Homo sapiens: one gene and its partners. The protein of the gene in region 1 interacts with the protein of each later gene in a pairwise test. Each region holds a gene or a part of one and is shown in the gene's direction. Other genes may lie near its edges.

The links.
Region 2: the proteins of DYRK3 (region 1) and ZNF350 interact in a two-hybrid assay, tested with the Homo sapiens proteins (one study listed by BioGRID).
Region 3: the proteins of DYRK3 (region 1) and MAGI2 interact in a two-hybrid assay, tested with the Homo sapiens proteins (one study listed by BioGRID).

What each region holds. Positions count from the first base shown.
Region 1 is NC_000001.11:206,652,418-206,655,669, forward strand, and holds the end of DYRK3 (dual specificity tyrosine-phosphorylation-regulated kinase 3), read left to right. Parts: 3' UTR 1-2,741; downstream 2,742-3,252. UniProt on the Homo sapiens protein: Dual-specificity protein kinase that promotes disassembly of several types of membraneless organelles during mitosis, such as stress granules, nuclear speckles and pericentriolar material.
Region 2 is NC_000019.10:51,969,761-51,976,889, reverse strand, and holds part of ZNF350 (zinc finger protein 350), read left to right. Parts: intron 1-316; exon of another isoform or gene 317-499; intron 500-1,964; exon of another isoform or gene 1,965-2,212; intron 2,213-2,358; 5' UTR 2,359-2,529; coding exon 2,530-2,544; intron 2,545-7,129. UniProt on the Homo sapiens protein: Transcriptional repressor. Binds to a specific sequence, 5'-GGGxxxCAGxxxTTT-3', within GADD45 intron 3.
Region 3 is NC_000007.14:79,443,558-79,450,686, reverse strand, and holds part of MAGI2 (membrane-associated guanylate kinase, WW and PDZ domain-containing protein 2), read left to right. Parts: intron 1-7,129. UniProt on the Homo sapiens protein: Seems to act as a scaffold molecule at synaptic junctions by assembling neurotransmitter receptors and cell adhesion proteins. Plays a role in nerve growth factor (NGF)-induced recruitment of RAPGEF2 to late endosomes and neurite outgrowth.

The sequences.
Region 1 (3,252 bases):
GCTCTATTTCTGTGTATCGAATGGACTACAAGGTTACTGAAACTGGGCTAAGGGAAAGTGTATAGACAACTCATTACACTGTAGACAGATTTTAGAAAGCTACAGGAAGGCAAATGGATGTTTCTGCCTCAATTTGGCAACCGAGAGAGTGATGCAGAGCAGAGTCATTGAAGTTGGCATACCTGTCTTCTGCAGGCCAATTCAAGTTTGAGGAGAGTGGGCTGCTTAAAAACATGGTGCTCGTCCACATGGATTTGAGGAAGTTTATGGTTGGGTTTCAAGCTTAGGGACAAGTTGTGGTTTTTAGAGGCAGTAACTCTATGCCACCTTATTGGCCACTGTTAAAAGTTTCACTTGGATCCCTGCCCAGCCATAGCAATGAGTGACTGAATTGGATCAGAGTTAGTACAGAAATTCAGACTGTCTCTTCCTCAGTTACTGGATTGTTCTTTAGCCATTTTTCTTCTAGTCATTTCAGTCAAACTGGTTAGGTTAGGTGACTTACTGAGTTCTAAATTGACAAATTTTAATTTCCAAGTTGTTTCTGACACGGTGAGAGTTGGGTTAGAATTTTTATTTCATTCCCCAAGTCATTTTTTCTTTTTCTTTATTTTTTCTTTTTGAGACAGAGTCTCGCTCTGTCGTCCAGGCTGGAGTGAAGTGGCGCAGTGTTGTCTGCAGCCTCAACCTCCCAGGCTCAGGTGATTCTCCCATCTCAACCTCCAGAGTAACTGGGACTACAGTCACGTGCTACCATGCCTGGCTAATTTTTTGTATATCTGTAGAGAGGGGGTTTCACCATGTTGCTCGGGCTGGTCTTGAACTCCTGGGCTCAAGTGATCCATGTGCCTTACCCTCTCAAAGTGCTGGGATTATAGGTGTGAGCGACCGTGCCCAGCCTCATTTTTTCTTTCAATATGGAAAATTGGCTAATCCACCTAATACCTGCTCATCTTCTAGTATTCTATCCTACCATCTACCCTCAGAGTTATTGATGTACTCTTTCATCATGTGCTATCATGATTTCTCCTTAGATTAGAAAGTAAGCTTCAAATGGGAGTGTGTCTTCATATTGTTCTGAATTAACAGATTTTGATGCCCGCTGATCATGTGCAGATGATGGAAGCTCATTTCCTTCCATGAACCAGGAGCATGCTCGCCTCTTCTTTTAAGTTGACCCACACAATCTCTGATGTCTTCTTTTTGGGAAAGGGTAATGAGATAAGGATTAAGGACATTTTCTTCTGGTCCAGTGTTAGATACAGTTACCTTGATAATAATGAAAAAAAAATGAATACCACCAAAACCTAACTATGATGTAAGGATTCTGCTTCTGCCCCACAGGGGCTCTGAAAGAGTCTAGCCTGGATCTTCTTTCCCAGAGGAAGTTTGACTTATGACCATATTAGTATGCTTTATTCCTTGGTGTTTAAGGGAGTTGGGGCAGACAGGTTAGCTGGCTAATGTCATTACAATTTAGTTTTTGTGACAATCTGTTAAGAAGGGGGCTTATTGCATAATCAAAAAAGAACAATAAAAAAATAAAAATTTCTACTGTGAAACTATTTCAATCTGTAGCAGCTGGTCATGTTAAAACACTTTCTGTTTTGCTTAATTCGTAACTAGGCATAATTAAAGTTAAATGCTAAATTTTAGGTAGCAGCTGATAAATGGTTCTAAGCTTTCCTGACAGAATACTCCTACTACTTTGGTGAATCATGGAAAACTCTTTCTCCTTTATTTTTAATTATTTCTTTTCCATCTGTTATTGATGTCATCAACACGGAAGTTGGAAAGGTGACAATGATTGTTCTAGACTGCCTCTGTAATGCTTTTTCTCCTCTGAGAATTAAAAATACATACTTACACCTTGAGCCAGGTAGAATTGCCAGAACATGTTTTCCTCCGTGTCTTCGGTCTAGATGACCAATCTGTAGAACGCTATAACTTACTATGCGTAGAGCAGCGGCAGGCATTCATGCTATGGAAAACCTGGAGTCAGTACAAATAAGGAGTAAGAAAAGGCCAGGGATTGGCAAATCAAAGAAGAGTTCTCTTCTGCCAGGGATTAGCCTCCTAGTTTTAAATATATTTTTAATATCCCCATTTTAACATACTCCATTTTCACCTTCAACCTATCCTTCCTGAAGCCCAAACTTTTAAAGAATTTACTTCCAGACCTGGCCTTCAGCCTAATATGATTAGGGTGTTTTTCTGAGTGTCTGTCAAATTATGCTGGCTAATTTCAATGAGAAAAGATTTTAGAGTCACAGTGAACCCATCCATAAAAGGACTAAAAGCTCTCTCTGGTCCCTGAGATCCACAACCCCTGAGAGAAGCCAGAACTACAAATGCATCGTCTAGACTTTGAAGAAGCAGGGTATGATTCTTAATATAGCCCACCCATCGCTAAGTCAAGCCTAGACTCTAATATTTTTCTATAACAGGAGAAGCCTCCCTGACTGGAGACTAGAGTCTCACATCTTCTGCCACCACATGAATAGACTAAAAAGAAAGGAGAGTCCCACATCAGGCCAAGTGGTGACCTGTGGCTATTTCAGCTCAGAATGTCAGCCTCTGAAGCATCAGGTTTGAATGACTTTGGTGTCATGGGATTCTGTCCATTGTCCGTTTGAGTCTGCTGACATGCTTCCTCTGGAAAGTGCAGTTTGGCATGGATGAGTCAGTGGTTTTTTATTTTGGGGTGTTTTTTAAAAAATAAAAATGAATTGCTTTGAGAATTTTTTAGCATCCTGATTGTTTCAAAACCAAGGCTGAGAACTGTCGCAGGCAGGAACTTGTGTGCTGTACTCTGAAGGAGGTGAGTACCAGTCGCTGGGTAATTAGGGCTGTGCTGCAGGTACAGCCTCTCTTGCTTGATGACAATGATACAGAAAGAAAATCTTGGGAAGGGAAAAGGCTGCCCTGAGAAACAGCCTTACAGAGAGTCCACCAGTATTCTTCCTTTAGTACCCAGAGCTTCTGTTCACAGTCTGGTTTGTGAGCTCCAGCCTTGCTGTGAAGGAAAATGGGAAAACATGTAGAGTGCTCAGGGCTAACCATCTCCCAGAAACCCGAATCAGCAGCTCTCCCATTTACCCTCTTGGGGCCCAAGCTCAGCTTAAGGATGAAACCTGACACGCAATAAGGAATACAGTTTATTTGGGAAGTTTGGGTGTTTTTCTTAGGCCCAGACCCCAGTCTGTGGGATAACTTTTAAAGCCTGAGGGAATTGAGTAAATGAAAGAGGAA
Region 2 (7,129 bases), on another chromosome or scaffold:
GAGAAAACAGAAGAATCGACTTTAAGACCTTTTTGATGAGCCTGTTTTAATCCTTCTCCTGCTGTATCCCAATTTTCCACATCAAGAGTGCCTGCCTGTGGAAACGATGGGTTATGTGTAATAACCTTTTGTGGCTTCTGCAGGAGGTTAGTGTCTGCGAATTAACCTGAGCTGCAGACTGTCTCAACAGAACTTTAAGCAACTGCACATAATGTTTTTCTTCAATAGACAAATTCTTTCCCTTGTTACCCTGAGTCAGAAAACTTCCCAGTACTTCTTTAAAGCACTGCTCCCAGTACCTCTTTAGGGCACTGACCTTATATCTGCTGCCGGCAGACTCTTCCCAGGGTCCCCTTTCGCCTTGTCAATTTCAGTTCCTCTGCTCCAGCAGACCTTCTTCATTCACGTCCTTGAAGTCCCATGTTTGGATGCTGCTAGTTGGGCGTGCTTGGAGTCCCTGTTCTGGTTGCCATTTGTAACCTGCACGGACCTAGGTGGACTAAACAAAGTGGGGTGAACACGGGAATAAAGATGAGACAAAAGAGTGTATTTGGAAGAAGGGATCGGGGGCGCTTTGCCTCTAGGGGACAAGGGCCCTGAGCTTTACACAGCCCTTCATATTTATTAGGCAAAAGAGACAGTGAGAAGGGGAGGTGGAAGAAGGGGTCAGCTGCTCGGTCCAGAGTAGTCTTGCAAGACTGCATTCTCTAGATGTCGCAGTAGATAACGGCGCCAGGGGTCCAGAGTAGTCTTGCAAGACTGCATTCTCTAGATGTCGCAGTAGATAACGGCGCCAGGGGTCCAGAGTAGTCTTGCAAGACTGCATTCTCTAGATGTCGCAGTAGATAACGGCGCCAGGGAGTGATTGCCTCCAGCAAACCTTCATCAGCCGGAGCAGTCATGAGTTTGCTGACATCCTGCATTCATGATAAACAGTTTGCTGTTTGATCTGTAGCCTCCAGTGGAATGCTGAGTTGGTCACGTCCCACGGGCCACGAGCCTTCGGCTCCCTGCAGCAGGTGCCTGTAAACTCAGCTACTCGGGAGGCTAAGGCAGAGAATTGCTTGAACCCGGGAGGCCGAGATCACACCATTGCACTCCAGCCTGGGCGACAGAGTGAGACTCCATCTCAAAAATTAAAATAAAATAAAATAAACCCCAGATGTTATTGGATTTTAATTTTTAATCCATTCTGACAGTTTTGAGGCATTTATATTTAATGTAATTAACTGGGATCCATGCTCTGTTTTTACTTAGCATAAAATACTTAATGTAATGTAATTTTCTTAGTACATTTTATTTTAAAACAGCTATCTAAATGCATTGTATTTGCTCTTTTTGCTCTGTTTTTGATTCTCTTCTTTTGGATGAATTTCTTGTTATTACATTTCCCCCTTTTGTTGGCATGGAACTTACGTACTTTAAAACAATTACTAGTTTTTTTTTTTTTTTTTTTTTTTAAGACGAGGTTTCGCTCTTTTTGACCAGACTGGAGTACAATGGCACAGGCTTGTCTCACTGCAACCTCCATCTCCCGGATTCAAGCAATTCTTCTGCCTCAGCTTCTGGAATAACTGTATTTTTATAGAGATGGGGTTTCACCATGTTGGCTAGGCCGGTCTCGGACTCCTGATGTCAGGTGATCCACCCGCCTCGGCATCCCAAAGTGCTGGGATTACAGGCGTGAGCCACTGTGCCTGGACTTACTAGTGTTAATTGTAACTAGAGATTACATGTAGTGTGCAACCTTTGTCATATTCTTCTGCTAATTGGCACTTTTCCATTCTACAGAAACCTTAGAGCACGTCAACTTTATTCACCACCTAATTATCCAGTAAATTATTGTGTATTTTAGCTTTTTATGTATTTAAAACCTCCTAAAATATTGTCAGTACTGTTTTTATGACAATGCTTATGATTTGCCCAGTACATTGGCTTTCAAACTGAAGTACATGTCTTCACAGGGTGTATGTACAAAGACTTTTGAAGAGGTGTGGGAGCACACATGATTTAAAGGAAAACAAAGACCAGGTCCTCTCCTTGCTGATTGTCTCTTTTCTAAAACTAATCTGCCTAAGAGTTCACCATCTCCTGAGGCTGGTGCTATGGTGGGTCTCATTTCCTACCTGCCTTCACAGTCCTTCCACGGAAACGTCACAGAGGAAAGGCATACCTCCACCACATTAAGAATCCTAGACATTATTGGCCACAGGTATAAAATCCGCTGGGGCTCCAAACAAAGGTATATAGTTAACTATATTGGGGGCATTGCTTTAAGATGAGTGCCTAGCAGCAGTGACAGTATCTGGGCCTGGAAAAAATGTACCACTTACATTGAATTTGCTCTTCAACCCACAGGTTCTGACTCCTCAGGAGCAAAAAACATAACCTGAAGAGGGAGGAAGTGGATTTGGGGTTCACCATTTCTTGGGGCACACTTGATTGAAAACTGAGACTTCTGAAGAGAAGGCCAGAAGATACAAAGACAGACCATCCCAGTTGAATGCTGTCTTCCAAGAACAGAAGAAAATGATCCAGGCCCAGGTAACTGACTTTTGGTTTGTTTTATTCTTTCCTTTGTTCCATAATAGATTTGTAGAAGCCTATAAACATCAATTTCACTAATATAAAAAGTATAAATTTCAAAAAGCAGGATCTGGAGAGAAGTAAGCTTAGTTTTTAAACTCAATATCATGCAAAATAGTAGGATAAGGAATATAATGTTCATAGCATTAACACTAAATTATGAATTTTGTGACACCATGCATGGCTGGAGGATCCTGTGGATTATATTAGCTGTCAGCTTGCATCTAATATCTCTGACAGCCAATGTCACAAGAAAATCATAATTTACATGGTATGTCCTGTTTTTGAAGATAAAACAGATTACTTCCTGGGGGTTGCCATTATTTCATGGCACTTTGGTCTCAGGAAATTTCTTCAGTGGTTCTTCCTAGAGTTGATGTGGTGGATGGTGTCCAGAATAGCAGCCTTCTCATAAATTCAGATGCAGGTTTCCTGTGGCTGTTTCTTGAAGGACTCCTTATATACTGTTACGGAATAGACTAAGCAAACAGTAAACACAGGGACCAACACAAGTTAATTTCAGCCTTGTGGCAGTCTGGATTTAACTTGGAATAAAACCTAGACATCCTGGGAATATGGCAGGATTCCAGGACTTTCAAATGGTTCTCAATGAACAGATAGCTGAACTGGTGTTTGAATATAGATTTGGAGACAGGGAGTTGAAAGTGATATTGTCTGAACAGGACTTGGATTGGAGTTTACAGATTTCCTTTAGACTTTCACCTTGTAGAAAATGCCAAGTCCTTATTGTATAGTAAATAATTGAACAAAGGGAGTTTTGGCCTTTGTGTTCAAGCTAATGGAGGGTGAGCTCTGGGCTTCTGGAATATCTTGCTAATGGTAGTGTCTTTGTTTGCTTGGGTCCTTTGGCCACTGGACAGCCTAAAAATACGAACTATGATAGATCTGTGATCTATGATAGGCCAGAAACTTCCAGAACTAGAGGCTAAAGTTAAAACCTGACTTCTGGGAGGGTGTGGACCTAAGATCAGCCACATAGGTCATCTGTGATTGTGTCCCAGTAAAGTAAGAAAGTACACATATCAAAAAATAAATTTCGGCTGGGCGCGGTGGCTCATGGCTGTAATCCAGCACTTTGGGAGACCGAGGTGGGTGGATCACGAGGTCTGGAGATCGAGACCATCCTGGCTCACACCGTGAAACCCTGTCTCTACTAAAAATACAAAAAATTGGTCGGGTGTGGTGGCAGGTGCCTGTAGTCCCAGCTACTCGGGAGGCTGAGGCAGGAGAATGGCGTGAACCCAGGAGACGGAAATTGCAGTGAGCCGAAATGGTGCCACTGCACTCCAGCCTGGGTGACAGAGAGACTCCATCTCAAAAAAAAAAAAAAAAAAAGTTTCTGGCTGAGTGCAGTGGCTTATGCCTACTTTGGGAGGCTTAGGCAGGAGGATTCCTTGAGCCCAGGAGTTTGAGACTAGCCTGGGCAATCTAGTGAGACCTTGTCTATATTTAGTAAAATTGAAGAAAAGAGAAAAAGTTTTCTTTTCACATATTTTCTTCCTAATCCACTTCTGTAAATGGTTGGTAATATTTACTTCCTGTCACTGTATCTGTTTGTGGATCTATGTCTATATATGTATTAATAAAAGTGTGAGTATATATGAATCTATCTGTAGATATATATATTCATTATGATATACACATATATATATTTTACATGATAGAATCATATTTCAAAGAACATAGCAGCCAACTTGAAGGGACTCTTCATTGGCCGAAGATGCTACACTTTGAACATCCAAAGACCAATGATTGCAAATGATTGAAGAACATTAATTATATAAAATTCCATCAGTTTATAGCTATACTTGAAAAAAATGCATTTGTCACCATTGGGGGTTAGGAGAGAATCAAGTATTTAATCTGAAAAATGATAAAAGATCATAAAGGTTTTGTGTGTGTGTGTGTGGCGGGGGTGGGTTGACTATGAGTTTATTTTTTACTTTTACTTTTCTGCTTTTTTTCTTTTTTCCTTTTTTTTTTTTTTTTAATTGAGATGGGGTCTTGTCATGTTGCCCAGGCTGCTCTTGAACTCCTGGGCTCAAGCAATCCTCCTGCCTCCCAAAGTGCTGGGATTACAGGCATAAGCCATTGTGCCTGGCCCTCTTGGTAATTTTGTATTACTGACCCATACTCTGCTCCTTGGCTATAAATTCCCACTTGCTTATGCTGATATTTGGAGTTAAGTCCATTCACCCTCTACCACTGCAAAATCCCATTACATTTGTCTATATACCTGTCATAATGGCCCTGAATAAAGTCTTCCTTACTGTGCTTTAACAATTCTCATTGAATAATTTTTTTAAACATGTATAGCTTAATTAAGGAGGTGAGATTCCAACGCCTTTGCCATATTCTGAATAGAGGTAAGTCACTAGGCCAGTCCCTGCTCAAGGAGAGGGTGTAGAGCACCCAATTCTGTCCCTGTTTGGGCGCCACTTGTAACCCGCACAGACCTAGGGGGACTGAACACAGTGGGGTGAACACAGGAATAAAAGACAAGAGACAAAAGTATATTCGGAGGAAGGGGTCAGGGGGTACCTTGCCTCTAGTGGACAAGGGCCCTGAGCTTTACACAGCCCTCTGCATTTATTAGGCAAAAGAGATAGTTGGGGGGGTGCAGTGGAAGTAGGGGTCAGCTGCTCAGTCCAGAGGAGGCTTGCAAGACTACATTCTCTAAATGTTGCAGTAGATAACCTCAGCACCAGGGAGTGATTGCCTCCAGAAAACCTTCTGTCGGCAGGAGCAATGGTGAGTTTGCTCACATCCTGCATTCATGATAAACAGTTTGCTGTTTGATCATATAGCCTCCAGTGGAATGCTGAGTTGGTCACGTCCCACGGACCTTTGGCTCCCTGTAAGTGGGAACTACATAAAGGTGTGAACACTGGGAGGGTGGAGTTCATTGAGCCATCAAATCTGCCTGCCATAGATCTGTCATATAGTAAACTATTTTTGAGTGTGGATTGAGGTAAGACTTTCACTTTACTTTTTTCCAAATAGATAGCTATCTCACATAAATAATTTAGAATGGGTAAACCAACCAGGATTAAGTACTTGTATCATCTACCAAGTGTGTTCACTGGCCTCTGTAATAAAATGAGTATAGAGTGTACCTTCTGCTGTTCCCTGGGTCTTCAATGACTCAATTTCCCACCAGCAGTATCCTTTAAAGCCATCCTGCATCCTGAGACAAGAGATTGACAATTCATTGATAAGTAGTCTTAATTGTCACTATTACAGGGCTGTAGGTCCTTTGCCAGCCATGCCTTTCAGTCCTAAATGGTCTTCAAGGTTGGGCTGTGTTGTCCAAGAGCTGAGGACCTTACATTTATTGTTCCAATATTTATTGGCTATAATGATTTCTGTGGAGCAGTCAGCTGTCAGAAAATTTTGTCTCCTTTGTAGGTAACCTGTCATTGGTCTTTGGATTTTTTTATAGTCTCCCTTTGTATCTGGTGTAATTTAGTTTCAATCTGTTGTGCCTACGTGTAGACTTCTTGCTTGAAAAGTTGTTGGATTTCTTGAGTTTGAATTTTGGAGTGTTTAATCAGTTCTGAAAAATTTTCAGTGTTAGATCTTTGGATATTGTTTCTCCATTACTTGATTTTCTCCTTCTTCTTGAGAAATTATCAAACTCAAGGAGGTCATAGGAACCCTCAGTTTATAATTAGTCCATCAGAAAAATAGGAGGCCTGGATTTGTGATATATGGTTGGCCCTCCATATCCATGGCTTCCACATCCATGGATTCAACCAACTGAGGATTGAAAATATATATTTTTTAAGCATCTGAACTGAGCACATACAGACTTTTTTATTGTCATGATTCCCTAAACAATATAGTATAACAACTGTTAACATACCATTTACATTGTATTAGATATTATAAGTAATCTAAAGATAATTTAAAGTATATGGGGCTGGGCACGGTGGCTCACTCCTGTAACTCCAGCACTTTGGGAGGCTGAGGTGGGTGGATCGTCTAAGGTCAGGAGTTTGAGAACAGCCTGGCCAACATAGTGAAACCCCATCTCTACTAAAAATACAAAAAATTAGCTGGTTGTGGTGGCGGGCACCTGTAATCCTAGCTACTCGGGAGGCTGAGGCAGGAGAATCGCTTGAACCTGGGAGGCGGAGGTTGCAGTGAGCCAAGATTGTACCATTGCACTCCAGCCTGGGAAAGAGGAGCAAAACTCCGTCTCAAAAAAAAAAAAAAAAAAATTAGCCAGGCGTAGTGTCACATGCCTGTAGTCCTAGCTACTTGGGAGGCTGGGGCAGAAGAATTGCCTGCTCCTGGGAGGCGGAGGTTGCAGTGAGCTGAGATTATGCCACTGCACCCCAGCCTGGGAAAGAGAGTGAGTCTCCATTTCAAAAAAACAGAAATGTATATGGGAGGATGTGCATGGGTTACATGCAAATCTGCAAGTACTATTCCATTTTATTTTATTTTATTAGAGACAGTCTTGCTCTGTTGCTTAGGCTGCAGTGCAGTAGCATGGTCATAACTCAGTGTAGTCTCT
Region 3 (7,129 bases), on another chromosome or scaffold:
TGAATTTTATGTGGAAGATTATTGCTTTTAGAACTCAGAATATATGCTTCTAAAGTGATATATTGAGGGGAAAGTCTCTTTTCATTCTATATTAACCCTCAGTTTCGTGCTTCACTGGTTCATTGATGATAAATTTGTATAATGATAGCCAGAGAGCCCACAGTTGGTTCATCTCCTGAACCACTGCTGACCAAAAACAAAACAAAACAAAATATTTCTTTTACCTTTTGTGGAATAATTAATTCTCTTGTATATTCTTTTAAATATGATTCATGTTGCTATTCTAATAATTCTTTTCCTCGTCAAATCATAGATTAATTTTATTTATGATTATAAAAAATGAAATTTTTCAGAACCTTTACTATAGTGCCTGTGTGTCTTAGGTTTCAATACAGATGTCATTTACTGGAAAATCATTTAGAAACTCTTGGCCCAGTAGTTATGTTTCAAGAGATGCAAAAGCTAGCATAGCTGAAAAACTTAAACATGGTTTGTTTAGCAGTTGCGTTTTTAAAACATTAATGAGACTGATTTTTGAATATTCATTCAGACATTGGGTATTATACAGAAACTACAAGAATTATCATAGTTTAAGGAAGATTTTATAAAGAAAAGGTAAGATTTGAATAATAAGAATATTGTTAATAAGTGCACCAGGTAAAATTGCATTATTTACTTAATTTTATTTACTTGTTTGCCTAATTTTACATTACAGTTATCATAATTTTCATCTGTCATAATTTTAAAAGGAGGTGAGCTCCTTTTAAAATGTTGGGATTTTAAGACATTATATATATATATATATATATGTATATATCTCACAGTGTTTCTACACTGTTTAAATACCTGCAAAACAATTTTTAAAACTGTTTAATGAAATTCAAGGAATTATCTTTTTAATTTAAGCTTTCTGCTTTTAATCCACACAATAATAAACCACATATTAAAATATGGCTTATTGTCACATCCAATTCTTTTTTATAAACTATGGCATTTTATTTGTAATAATAAACTTTCCTCACCAAAGTATGTAATTCTAAATTAGCAGTAATTCTATGATCTCGTTAATGCATCAGACCCAGTTGAAGAAAGTTTTTTGAGTGATGTTGAGATCTATATGGAAGTGCTAAAGGTCTTCTTTCCTTTTTCTTTTCCCTTTTTTAAGGTTTGCCACTAAAGTTCACAGCAGCCAGTTACACAGGCCTTTGTGGCCTACATTCCTTGCACTATGGCTGCTATTGCATCTAATACCACATAGAGACCTACATAACCTGGACTTATTTTCCCATTTAGGGTCTCACAATGGGAAATAAAAGGCAAAAAAAAAAAAAAATTCTAATTCTTCCCATGTGGAAGATGGGCCAAATAAATCCTTTGAAATTCAGTTTTAGAGAAGATCTACATTGCTCTCCCTCCTACTGCTCCTTTCAAAGATACCTTCAAAGGAAAGTAGATCCACATTTATTAAGAGTCATACTTTCTTCTTGACTGACTTCAGGCTTAGAATAATAGAGTCAGATCTCTATACTCCTTTGTATCTGAAAAGGTAAAAACAAATTATGTCAAATTTTCTGAAAATAAAGATTGACTTTTTTTCTGTAGAAATGTGAGGTATATGAATAGTGTTGTTTAATAAACAAAACATTGTTTAAACATTTTGATCAGTTTATTATTTTAGAAATAAAGTACCATTAATGTTTTGAACAAGGTTAATGAGACGGTTCTCTTGGGGCATAATTTATAAGTGATACCACTGTAGTTTTCTGGTACATGTAGATAATTTAAATGGTATGACCTCGAATGTTAAATATGATTATTTGCTTTTTATCTGTACTGTCCCTATTCTTAACATTTACACTGTTTAATCTTTTGGCATGTTTATTATGCTCACTTTCCTTTTCATTGCTTGTAACTCACAAATTCACTTTCATAATGAGAAAAGCATATTCACATTTGACATCTCTGATTGATTATAGTTTAATTAATGACTTTCAAATACATACAGACCCTGGCAGAATCATTTTCCTCAGAAGGTGGGGTAGAGCAATGGTTAAAGGTACAGTCTCCTAAGTAGACCACCTAGTTTTAATTCCTGAGTATGTCAGTTAGTGCTAGCTATATGTACAAGATAACTAACCTGGGGTAGTAATGGCACCTTAAGAATATTAGATAAGTTATGTATTTAAAGTGTGTAGTGTCTGGCAGGTGATAAGCATTATGTAGATTTTAGTAAATGCTATTGCAAACATATTGGTCATTTTGAGCTAGTGACATTATGAGGTGTTTTTAATTTTCAAGATATTTTACTCAATTCAAATTAACTGAAAAATATGAAATGATTGACATTAATATAGAGTATTTTGCAAGTTGTATTTTAAGGTTTTTTTGCAGAATGAAATAAATATTTTATTTGAAAAGAATTTATTTGAAGAATAATATCAATAAATACAATGGAAAATATTTTCACTTTTTAAAAATAACTTCCACTGATCCTCCCTTTATGTGTAAACATCTGCTATTTTATATTTATTTTATACTTTAGACATAGTTTATTTTTACATAGTAATTTGTTTTCTTCATACCGCATATCTTTACTCCCAAAGAATTGCTGAATATATTGAATTATTTACTCTAAACTTGACAACATAGAAATCCTATTAGAATTTATTAAGTTTAGGAGTTTATACTTCTTATATTAATACATCATTGTAGTTAAGAGTAAGTATCATGCTGTTGAACTTTTACTTCTCAGCTAGAAATTAAGCACCTCATAAAGAATAACAATAATAAAAGTTAACTCTTAAGTGTTCACAGTCAACAATGTATAATAAAGAGGAAATGCATCAAATTCAGCAAAAATAATACTTTGCATTTGTGAGTATTGCAATGTAAATAAGTTAAAAGGCTATTTGTATTGCATTTTATAGTATTTTATACTATACTATTTTATAGTATTTTATGGTACTGTTAAAATACCATTAAATTTAAATACTATTTAAATACTATTAACGTACTATAGTACTATTAAAATACTATTTTATAGTATTTTCATACTTTGTATGAAAGAAATGCAATATAAGTAAGTCTGTGTATTAATACTGTTACAAGGTGAAGCAACCAACAATACTTCCACTGCTAGCTTCCCCATAATTTTAGCATTTTCGTTGAATTAATCCTATTTTACAGTTCAATGGAAACATCTACCTTGAAGCTCCAGGGTTCAGTATTAATTTCTAAAAATCTCTCCTAGCTATAATCTGGCTATATATTATGACAACAAACATACAACTGCCTTAGTTTAGTGACTTTATTATTACTTACTCCATTCTATTCTCAGCTCTCTTCTGTCTCTAGTAAGTATTTGTTATATTTCCTTTAATAAAAGTAAATTATCTTATATAGAAAACTTAGTAATATAATAATTGCTGAATTTACATTGTTAAAGACTTGCATAGGGACATACATAGTACAATGTCCATATCATCATAGATAATTAATAAAAATTGCTTTTATTATTACGTCTTACTGACATCTTTGTCAACTCTAAAAGGACTTCATATTGAGATATTTTTAAAAAAGTTAAAATTTGTGTTAAGTTTAATATATATTGTTGACTGTTTTGAGTGGTCTGGAAGAAACAATAAAAGTTTCCTTCTTTGATAAGTTATTGAATATTAACTCAATTGCATCCCATTGATGTACTTTTATTTTTTCACTTATTTATTATTTTTTTTTGAGACGGAGTCTCGCTCTGTCGTCCAGGCTGGAGTGCAGTGGCGTGATCTCAGCTCACTGCAATCTCCGCCTCCCGGGTTCACGCCATTCTCCTGCCTCAGCCTCCTGAGTAGCTGGGACTACAGGTGCCCGCCATCCACGCCCGGTTAATGTTTTTGTATTTTTAGTAGATATGGGGTTTCACCGTGTTAGCCAGGATGGTCTTGATCTCCTGACCTCGTGATCCACCTGCTTCGGTCTCCCAAAGGGCTGGGATTACAGGTGTGAGCCACTGCGCCCAACCCCCATTGATATACTTTCAAAGATCCATTAGGCTAATGAGTGGGTGATTTATATGAATGGCTAGATTTGTTTCAATATTTGAAATAATTAGATGGCTTGCTCTACCTGGGGAAATAATTTCTCCATGTAATCGTTACATGAATCCTTATGAGGTTTTATGCCATTTTTATTTATTTTGGCTTACTTTAAAAAAAAAATCACTGTCAAAACCATGGCAGTTTGAGCCTAAATACTTGCTATACTTTGGATATATCATTGGATATACCCAAACACAGATATGTTACAGAAGAAAAAAATAAACCTTTATAGTGCAAAGAGAGATTTTGTCTATGTTGAATTTTCTTCTTTTTTTAATTGTACTTTAAATTTCGGGGTACACGTGCTCAACGTGCAGGTTAGTTACATATGTATACATGTGCTATGCTGGTGTGCTACACCCATTAACTTGTCATTTAACATTAGGTATATCTGCTAATGCTATCCCTCCCCCCTCCTCCCACTGCACAACAGGCCCAGGTGTGTGATGTTCCCCTTCCTGTGTCCATGTGTTCTCATTGTTCAGGTCCCACCTATGAGTGAGAACATGCGGTGTTTGGTATTTTGTCCTTGTGATAATTTGCTGAGAATGACGGTTTCCAGCTTCACCCATGTCCCTACAAAGGACATGAACTCATCCTTTTTTGTGGCTGCATAGTATTCCATGGTGTATATGTGCCACATTTTCTTAATCCAGTCTATCATTGTTGGACATTTGGCTTGGTTCCAAGTCCTTGCTATTGTGAATAGTGCCACAATAAACATATGTGGGCATGTGTCTTTATAGAAGCATGACTTATAATCCTTTGGGTATATACCCAGTAATTGGATGGCTGGGCCAAATGGTATTTCTAGTTCTAGATCCCTGAGGAATTGCCACACTGACTTCCACAATGGTTGAACTAGTTTACAGTCCCACCAACAGTGTAAAAGTGTTCCTGTTTCTCCACATCCTCTCCAGCGCCTGTTGTTTCCTGACTTTTTAATGGTTGCCATTCTAACTGGTGTGAGATGGTATCTCATTGTGGTTTTGATTTGCACTTCTCTGATGGCCAGTGATGATGAGCATTTTTTCATGTGTCTTTTGGTTTCATAAATGTCATCTTTTGAGAAGTGTCTGTTCATATCCTTTGCCCACTTTTTAATGGGGTTGTTTGTTTTTTTCTTGTAAATTTGTTTGAGTTCACTGTAGATTCTGGATATTAGCCCTTTGTCAGATGGATAGACTGCAAAAATTTTCTCCCATTCTGTAGGTTGCCTATTCACTCTGATGGTAGTTTCTTTTGCTGTGCAGAAGCTCTTTAGTTTAATTAGATCCCATTTGTCAATTTTGGATTTTGTTGCCATTGCTTTTGGTGTTTTAGACATGAAGTCCTTGCCCCTGCCTATGTCCTGAATGGTATTGCCTAGGTTTTCTTCTAGGGTTTTTATGGTTTTAGGTCTAACATTTAAGTCTTTAATCCATCTTGAATTAATTTTTATATAAGGTATAAGGAAGAGATCCAGTTTCAGCTTTCTACATATGGCTAGCCAGTTTTCCCAGCACCATTTATTAAATAGGGAATCCTTTCCCCATTGCTTGTTTTTCTCAGGTTTGTCAAAGATCAGAGAGTTGTAGATATGCGGCATTATTTCTGAGGGCTCTGTTCTGTTCCATTGGTCTATATCTCTGTTTTGGTACCAGTACCATGCTGTTTTGGTTACTGTAGCCTTGTAATATAGTTTGAAGTCAGATAGCGTGATGCCTCCAGCTTTGTTCTTTTGGCTTAGGATTGACTTGGCAATGCAGGCTCTTTTTTGGTTCCATATGAACTTTAAAGTAGTTTTTTTCCAATTCTGTGAAGAAAGTCATTGGTAGCTTGGTGGGGATAGCATTGAATCTATAAATTACCTTGGGCAGTATGGCCATTTTCACAATATTGATTCTTCCTACCCATGAGCATGGAATGTTCTTCCATTTGTTTGTATCCTCTTTAATTTCATTGAGCAGTGGTTTGTAGTTCTCCTTAAAGAGGTCCTTCACGTCCCTTGTAAGGTGGATTCCTAGGTATTTTATTCTCTTTGAAGCAATTGTGAATGGGAGTTCACTCATGATTTGACTCTGTGTTTGTCTGTTATTGGTGTATAAGAATGCTTGTGATTTTTGCACATTGATTTTGTATGCTGAGACTTTGCTGAAGTTGCTTATCAGCTTAAGGAGATTTTGGGCTGAGATGATGGGGTTTTCTGATATACAATCATGTCATCTGCAAACAGGGACAATTTGACTTCCTCTTTTCCTAATTGAATACTCTTTATTTCCTTCTCCTGCCTGATTGCCCTGGCCAGAACTTCCAACACTATGTTGAATAGGAGTGGTGAGAGAGGGCATCCCTGTCTTGAGCCAGTTTTCAAAGGGAATGCTTCCAGTTTTTGCCCATTCAGTATGATATTGACTGTGGGTTTGTCATAGATAGCTCTTATTATTTTGAGATACGTCCCATCAATACCTAATTTATTGAGAGTTTTTAGCATGAAGCGTTGTTGAATTTTGTCAAAGGCCTTTTCTGCATCTATTGAGAAAATCATATGGTTTTTATTGTTGGTTCTGTTTATATGCTGGATTACGTTTATTGATTTGCGTATGTCTAATGAAAAAATTTGTAGAAGAAATTTTATCAACCTCATAACTGCCTTATAGTGAAACACATGCATATGACATCAGGAATTTTTCTGTAAGTACCATGGATTTTATTAAGTGACTCTGTGAAATGAAGCAGAAAGAAACAAAACTATTTAATTAAAAATCAAAATGTATATTTAAAAATCTATTTTTATATTACATTGTGTTTGAAGATGTTTGTTAAAAAGTAAATTTCCCAATTCCAGCATAAATTGAATTATTTATATTGCCATGGATCAAGTGTAGCACAAAAACTGTTTATACTTTACATTGTCACTTAATAGATCACAGGGAATGTCTGAGTAAAAATAATACAAAAACAATTGCATACATTTTTAACATTTTGCATTTTACAAGTGAGTATTTTTGCTTATATGAGTATTTTGTGTTGCTATGTGGAGGATAATAAGTGCT